2 linked regions of the Homo sapiens genome follow. The protein of the gene in region 1 purifies or fractionates together with the protein of each later gene. This does not show direct contact. Each region holds a gene or a part of one and is shown in the gene's direction. Other genes may lie near its edges. The genes, in order: FUT2 and MCAM.

Region 1 (3,910 bases):
TTGAGAGGGAGTCTTGCTCTGTCGCCCAGGCTGGAGTGCAGTGGTGTGACCTCGGCTCACTGCAAGCTCCGCCCCCGGGGTTCACGCCATTCTCCTGCCTCAGCCTCCCAAGTAGCTGGGACTACAGGCACCCACCACCACGCCCGGCTAATTTTTTTTTTATATATATTTTTAGTAGAGACGGGGTTTCACTGTATTAGCCAGGATGGTCTCAATCTCCTGACCTCGTGATCCGCCCGACTCAGCCTCCCAAAGTGCTGGGATTACAGGCGTGAGCCACCACACCTGGCCTGTTTTGCATATTTTATGACAGCTCACCTCCCCACTTCCCCGCCCCACCCTGTTTCTTTTTTCCTTGTCGCTGAATCACAGGGAAACAGGTCGTTTGTCCTGTGGACGGGCTCACATTCTGGACTGGGCTGATTGCTGCCTCATGGTGTCGTTTCACTGGGAACTTTGTCCTCCTGTTTTCTGCAAACTGGTGGTTAGAGTGGGAAGCTTGATCTGATTTTTTTGTTTGTTTGTTTGAAGGGAGCTCCGTAGCTGGTAGGTAGCCTCCTGCTGCTTAGCTGAAGCTGGGGAGTGGCTGCTGGTTTCTCTTTCCTCCTGTTAGGACTGCTGGGAGCTCTGGTGGTGCCTGCCTCTTCTCTCAGTAAAATTCCTCATCCATCTTTTTTTTTTTTGAGACAGAGTTTTGCTCTTGTTTCCCAGGCTGGAGTGCAATGGTGTAATCTCAGTTTACTGCAACCTCCGCCTCCCAAGTTCAAGCGATTCTCCTGCCTCAGCCTCCCAAGTAGCTGGGATTACAGGTGCATGCCACCACGCCCCACTGATTTTTGCATTTTTAGTAGAGACAGGGTTTCACCATGTTGGCCAGACTGGTCTCAAACTCCTGACCTCAGGTGATCCACCTGCCTCGGCCTCCCAAAGTGCTGGGATTACAGGCATGAGCCACTGTGCTGGGCCATGGCTAATTTCTGTATTCTTATAAGGACGGGGTTTCACCTTGTTGGCCAGGCTGGTCTCTGACTCCTGACCTCAGTTGATCCGCCTGCCTCGGCCTCCCAAAGTGCTAGAATTACAGGTGTGAGTCACCACACCGGGCCCATTTGTATTTAAAAATTTTTTTGAAATAGGCAGGGCGAGGTGGCTCACGTCTGTAATCCCAGCACTTTGGGAAGCTGAGGCAGGAGAATCCCTTGAACTTGTGAGGCGGCGGTTGCAGTGAGCTGAGATCACGCCATTGCACTCCAGCCTGGGCAACAAGAGCAAAACTCTCTCAAAAAGTAATACTACTAATAATTAATTAATAAATAAATATAAGACTCTGAGGGGACTCAGAGTCAGCGAGAGCCTGGCCTAGCAGGACTCTGTCCCCCGCCTCCATGCTGCCTTCCTGGAGGCCTTCCTGGCTGCCTGGAGGAGCGGAGCAGAGTGGGGGCCCCTTTCTGTTGGGGCATCACAACAGTTCCCCAAGGAAGACCCTCGGGGACCCGGATGGGGGATGCGACCTTGTCCTGCCTCTCTCCCCCACCCTTATGGCCAGGCTTGGGGTGCCTGGTGCAGGTGGAGGAGCTAAGGGTAGATAACAAGATGGACTTTGTGGCCGGCAATGGGGAGGGAGGAGGGGCTACGGGCTCACCTCCCTCCCGCAGCCCAGCCACACCTGCTCTGGAAAGCCCTGTAGCTCCTGGGCGGGGTTTGCCAGTCACCGATGCTGGAAGGGTTTCTTTGGCCCTGAGTGAAGAGAGACCCAGAGGGAACACTGAGGTGCCTGCCCAACCACTCTGTCCCGGTTTCCTTCAGCAGGACCAGGTGAGAGAAGGTGAGGGGGCTCCTCTCCCACCCTACAACACGCACACCTCTGCACACACGCCCAGGCGGAGAGCAGGGATTTGGGACGTGGACCTGTGTGCCCTCGTGGGTCCCTGGTGCCCTCTGGGAGGCACCCCCAACTCAGGACCTCCAGGAGAGGAGGGTCCCTCCCTCGGCAGCCAGGACCCCCCTCCCCAGCCAGCCGCCCTCCTTAGCTCCCTCCCCACTTCCTTCCAGGTGGATCTGTTTCTAGAGCTCCAACCACCAGCTCCCTCCCCTTCTCCACCCCGGGCCACCAGGTCCTTCCTTGTCTCCTTCCCCTCAGCAGTTTCTATGAACCACCCTGGCAGTAATGGTGCAGATGGCTCGCGCACAGCTGGTGGTGACCCGACTTTCCTGCCTCCACCCTGGGGCTCCTCAGAGGCTTCATGGAACCCAAACTGCTGGTCTCACCTCCGAGCCCTGCCGTCGCCCAGGGAGGGCGGCTCCGTCCCTCCTGCACTCCCTAATCCCGCTCTGAATCACCGCTTCTGTTCTGGGTCGGAGAATAAAGGTGGGGTTTCCAAGTGATGGCCCTACGTTATTGTCTGAAGCTCCCTTCTCCTCCCCAGGGTGGAAGTGATAATGCCGGGAATCCGGGAATCCCGGGGAGGTGCAGGAAGACAGCGAGCTCGAGGCAGTGGGGTGCGACTGAGCCGGATGTGCTGAGCTGCCCGGGGCACGGGGCGGTTGGGGTAGAGAAAGGCTTTCAGAGCTGGGGGACAGGACGGGGCCCCGGGTGAGCGGAGAGCTGGGTTATTTCACGGGAACAGCTGGTGACAAAGCCGGAGGGGTGTGCGGGGCCGGCGAGAGACTGGGATTGTGTCTTAAGAGGCATAGGGAGCCCTGAAGGGGCTGCGAGCTGGGAAGGGGCAGGGCCGGCGCTGGGTGTAGGGGACAGAGGGGAGAGGAGGAAGCCGGGCCGCAATAGAAAGACGTGGACGGGGCTGGACGTGGTGGCTGACGCCTGTAATCCCAGCACTTTGGGAGGCCGAGACAGGCGGATCACTTGAGGTCAGGAGTTCGAGACCAGTCTGGCCAACATGGAGAAACCCCGTCTCTACTAAAAATACAAAATTAGCCAGGCGTGGTGGTGCATGCCTGTAATCCCAGCTACTCGGGAGGCTGAGGCAGGAGAATCGTTTGAACCCGGGAGGCGGAGGTTGTGGTGAGCCGAGATTGTGCCATTGCACTCCAGCCTGGGGAACAAGAGCAAAACTCCGTCTCAAAAAAAAAAAAAAAAAAAAAAATCTCAGTAAGATAGACCAGGTGTGGTGTCTCATGCCTGTAATCCCAGCACTTTGGGAGGCTGAGGAAGGAGAACAGAGGACCTCCTGAGGCCAGGAGTTTGAGATCAGTGTGGGCCACATAGCAAGACCCCCTCCCCACCATCCCTACAAAAAAAGCAATTCAAAAAAAATAATGCCTTCAGGCAGAATGGGAGTGGTGCTTGGTTCAAGCCTGACATAAGTGTGAGTTTGGGGCACAAATTCTGCTCTGAATACCAGGGACAGCCCATGTAATACAGCATTTCCCTTTGTGCCCACGCAGCCCTAAGGGAGGTGTGGTTTGTTGTTGTTGTTGTATCTTTTTGAGATGGATTTTTGCTCTTGTTGCCCAGGCTGGCATGCAATGGTACAATCTCGGCTCACTGCAACCTCCGCCTCCCAGGTTCAAGCGATTCTCCTTCCTCAGCCTCCCAAGTAGCTGAGATTACAGTCATGAGCCACCATGCCTGGCTAATTTTTTGTATTTAGTAGAAATGGGGTTTCACCATATTAGTCAGGCTGGTCTCGAACTCCTGACCTCAGGTGATCCACCCGCCTCAGCCTACCAAAGTGCTGGGATTACAGGCATGAGCCACTGCACTGGCTCTTTTTTTTTTTTTTTTTTTTTTTTGAGACGGAGTCTCACTGTGTTGTGCAGGCTGGAGTGCAATGGTGTGATCTCAGCTCACTGAAACCTCTGGGGAGGTGTTGTTTTTATCCCTCCCCACAACCCCCTGTTGATGGACAGACAAGGACAATGAAACACAGAGAGGTAAAAGCCCTGGGTT
Region 2 (3,361 bases), on another chromosome or scaffold:
CCTGGCAAGAGAACAGGGCTGTGCCAGGGCATCCTTTCTGCCCTGTCCCTCCCCAGAGAGCCCTGTCCAGAAAGGTGAGTAGCAGCCCCATCTTGTCGGCCCTGGACTGGCTGGGCCAACGATGGTGACGAAGTGGCCTGGGGCAGGGAGTGACGAGGAGTGTCTTTGTGGCGCAGAGAGAAAGCTGCCGGAGCCGGAGAGCCGGGGCGTGGTCATCGTGGCTGTGATTGTGTGCATCCTGGTCCTGGCGGTGCTGGGCGCTGTCCTCTATTTCCTCTATAAGAAGGGCAAGCTGCCGTGCAGGCGCTCAGGGAAGCAGGAGATGTAAGCCCAACACCGGCCCCTCCGCCCCCGCCCGTTTTGCCACCCAGCCTGCTGCCTGCCCAGCGCCCGCCTGCCCCTTGACAGCAGGAGTGGGGCCCTGGGTCAGGGTGCTGCCTGCTCCACTACCCACTGCCCAGCTTCCATCAGCCACATGGTCTCATGACCTGCTTCCCTGCCCTGGGCTGGCCCTGGAGCAAGGAGCCCTCATCCATTCCACATCCTTCACAGCGGGCCCTTCTCTTCCTGTGGCCCTGAGATACCAACCTCTCACCTCCCTCCCTCCTCCCAGCACGCTACCCCCGTCTCGTAAGAGCGAACTTGTAGTTGAAGTTAAGTCAGATAAGCTCCCAGAAGAGATGGGCCTCCTGCAGGGCAGCAGCGGTGACAAGAGGGCTCCGGGAGACCAGGTAGGAGGCGGTTCCTGTGGCCAGAGCCTGCCACATCCTCAGGGACCGGGGGCAGTAGGGACTAACGGTTCTCTCTATCCTTCATCCCTCTTTGTCAGAGATAGGGAGCAGGCCCCATCTTGCCTTCTTAACACTACTCACAGATGGCAGGGCCAAGCAAGTGGCTGAGGGAGCTTGGAGGAAGACTGAGAAAGACCCTGTCCCATCACCTTTTCCTGACCAATGCCCGTGGCTCTGGGTGTGGCCATTTCACCAGTGCAGTCAGACGGGGGCCGCCCTCCTTCCCTGGCCTGCCATGCCCATCCTAGCTTCCTCCCCAACGCTGCCCACCAAATTCATCGGCTTCTGCTTCCATCTCTCCTTCCTCTCGGTGCTCACACCTTCAACTCAGCACCGTCTCCGTGTTCCCCTCTTCTCCTCTACCCACTTTTAGGGAGAGAAATACATCGATCTGAGGCATTAGCCCCGAATCACTTCAGCTCCCTTCCCTGCCTGGACCATTCCCAGCTCCCTGCTCACTCTTCTCTCAGCCAAAGCCTCCAAAGGGACTAGAGAGAAGCCTCCTGCTCCCCTCGCCTGCACACCCCCTTTCAGAGGGCCACTGGGTTAGGACCTGAGGACCTCACTTGGCCCTGCAAGGCCCGCTTTTCAGGGACCAGTCCACCACCATCTCCTCCACGTTGAGTGAAGCTCATCCCAAGCAAGGAGCCCCAGTCTCCCGAGCGGGTAGGAGAGTTTCTTGCAGAACGTGTTTTTTCTTTACACACATTATGGCTGTAAATACCTGGCTCCTGCCAGCAGCTGAGCTGGGTAGCCTCTCTGAGCTGGTTTCCTGCCCCAAAGGCTGGCTTCCACCATCCAGGTGCACCACTGAAGTGAGGACACACCGGAGCCAGGCGCCTGCTCATGTTGAAGTGCGCTGTTCACACCCGCTCCGGAGAGCACCCCAGCAGCATCCAGAAGCAGCTGCAGTGTTGCTGCCACCACCCTCCTGTCTGCCTCTTCAAAGTCTCCTGTGACATTTTTTCTTTGGTCAGAAGCCAGGAACTGGTGTCATTCCTTAAAAGATACGTGCCGGGGCCAGGTGTGGTGGCTCACGCCTGTAATCCCAGCACTTTGGGAGGCCGAGGCGGGCGGATCACAAAGTCAGGACGAGACCATCCTGGCTAACACGGTGAAACCCTGTCTCTACTAAAAATACAAAAAAAAATTAGCTAGGCGTAGTGGTTGGCACCTATAGTCCCAGCTACTCGGAAGGCTGAAGCAGGAGAATGGTATGAATCCAGGAGGTGGAGCTTGCAGTGAGCCGAGACCGTGCCACTGCACTCCAGCCTGGGCAACACAGCGAGACTCCGTCTCGAGGAAAAAAAAAGAAAAGATACGTGCCTGCGGTGAGGAAGCTGGGCGCTGTTTTCGAGTTCAGGTGAATTAGCCTCAATCCCCCGTGTTCACTTGGCTCCCATAGCCCTCTTGATGGATCACGTAAAACTGAAAGGCAGCGGGGAGCAGACAAAGATGAGGTCTACACTGTCCTTCATGGGGATTAAAGCTATGGTTATATTAGCACCAAACTTCTACAAACCAAGCTCAGGGCCCCAACCCTAGAAGGGCCCAAATGAGAGAATGGTACTTAGGGATGGAAAACGGGCCTGGCTAGAGCTTCGGGTGTGTGTGTCTGTCTGTGTGTATGCATACATATGTGTGTATATATGGTTTTGTCAGGTGTGTAAATTTGCAAATTGTTTCCTTTATATATGTATGTATATATATATATGAAAATATATATATATATGAAAAATAAAGCTTAATTGTCCCAGAAATCATACATTGCTTTTTATTCATCATGGGTACCACAGGAACCTGGGGGCCTGTGAAACTACAACCAAAAGGCACACAAAACCGTTTCCAGTTGGCAGCAGAGATCAGGGGTTACCTCTGCTTCTGAGCAAATGGCTCAAGTTCTACCAGAGCAGACAGTCACCCTACTTTTCAGCAGCAAAACTGCCCTGATGACGCAGCACGAAGGGCCTGGCAGGCTGTTAGCAGGAGCTATGTCCCCTTCCTATGCTTTCCTGCCACTTGGAACTGCCCTCCAGACAGCAGCTCAGGCTCACCGCCATGAGGAAGGGGGCCTTGGCATTTGGTCCTACGGCAACTCGAGTATTGCCTCCCAACCCCCTGAATGAGCAAGAACTCAAGTCTGCTACAACAAAAGAAACTTTATTTAAAAATATTTTTTTACAGACATGGGTGCTTGAAAAAGCTCTTTAGTTAACTAACTGTGTATGGAAATGAAAAAAAATTAATAAATAACATTAGTAAAACAGACTTCTAAACATTAATACACTGGCAAAATAAAATGGACTTAAAATGAAAATGAATCTTAAAGCTCTGCTATTCTCTGTAAGAATATTTACCTTCTGTTTTTCTTATTCTTTACAGGTGAGAATGATTAAATACTGCTAATATAAATTTTTTATATTAATGACACATTTTTAAAATAGTCCACGAAAATCTCACCTATGTGTTTGTTTTGTTTTCTTCTTAACACTGATATACAAATTGGGACTCTTCATTCTGGAGAAAGCATCAGGTTCTCTCCAGCACTCCCAGGCTAAGAATTTCAAAAT

Evidence for each region.
Region 2: the proteins of FUT2 (region 1) and MCAM purify together in Homo sapiens (co-immunoprecipitation; one study listed by IntAct). This does not show direct contact.

Annotation. Positions count from the first base shown.
Region 1 is NC_000019.10:48,694,265-48,698,174, forward strand, and holds the start of FUT2 (galactoside alpha-(1,2)-fucosyltransferase 2), read left to right. Parts: upstream 1-1,706; 5' UTR 1,707-1,825; intron 1,826-3,910.
Region 2 is NC_000011.10:119,307,719-119,311,079, reverse strand, and holds the end of MCAM (cell surface glycoprotein MUC18 precursor), read left to right. Parts: intron 1-176; coding exon 177-324; intron 325-613; coding exon 614-731; intron 732-1,164; coding exon 1,165-1,194; 3' UTR 1,195-2,551; downstream 2,552-3,361. UniProt on the Homo sapiens protein: Plays a role in cell adhesion, and in cohesion of the endothelial monolayer at intercellular junctions in vascular tissue.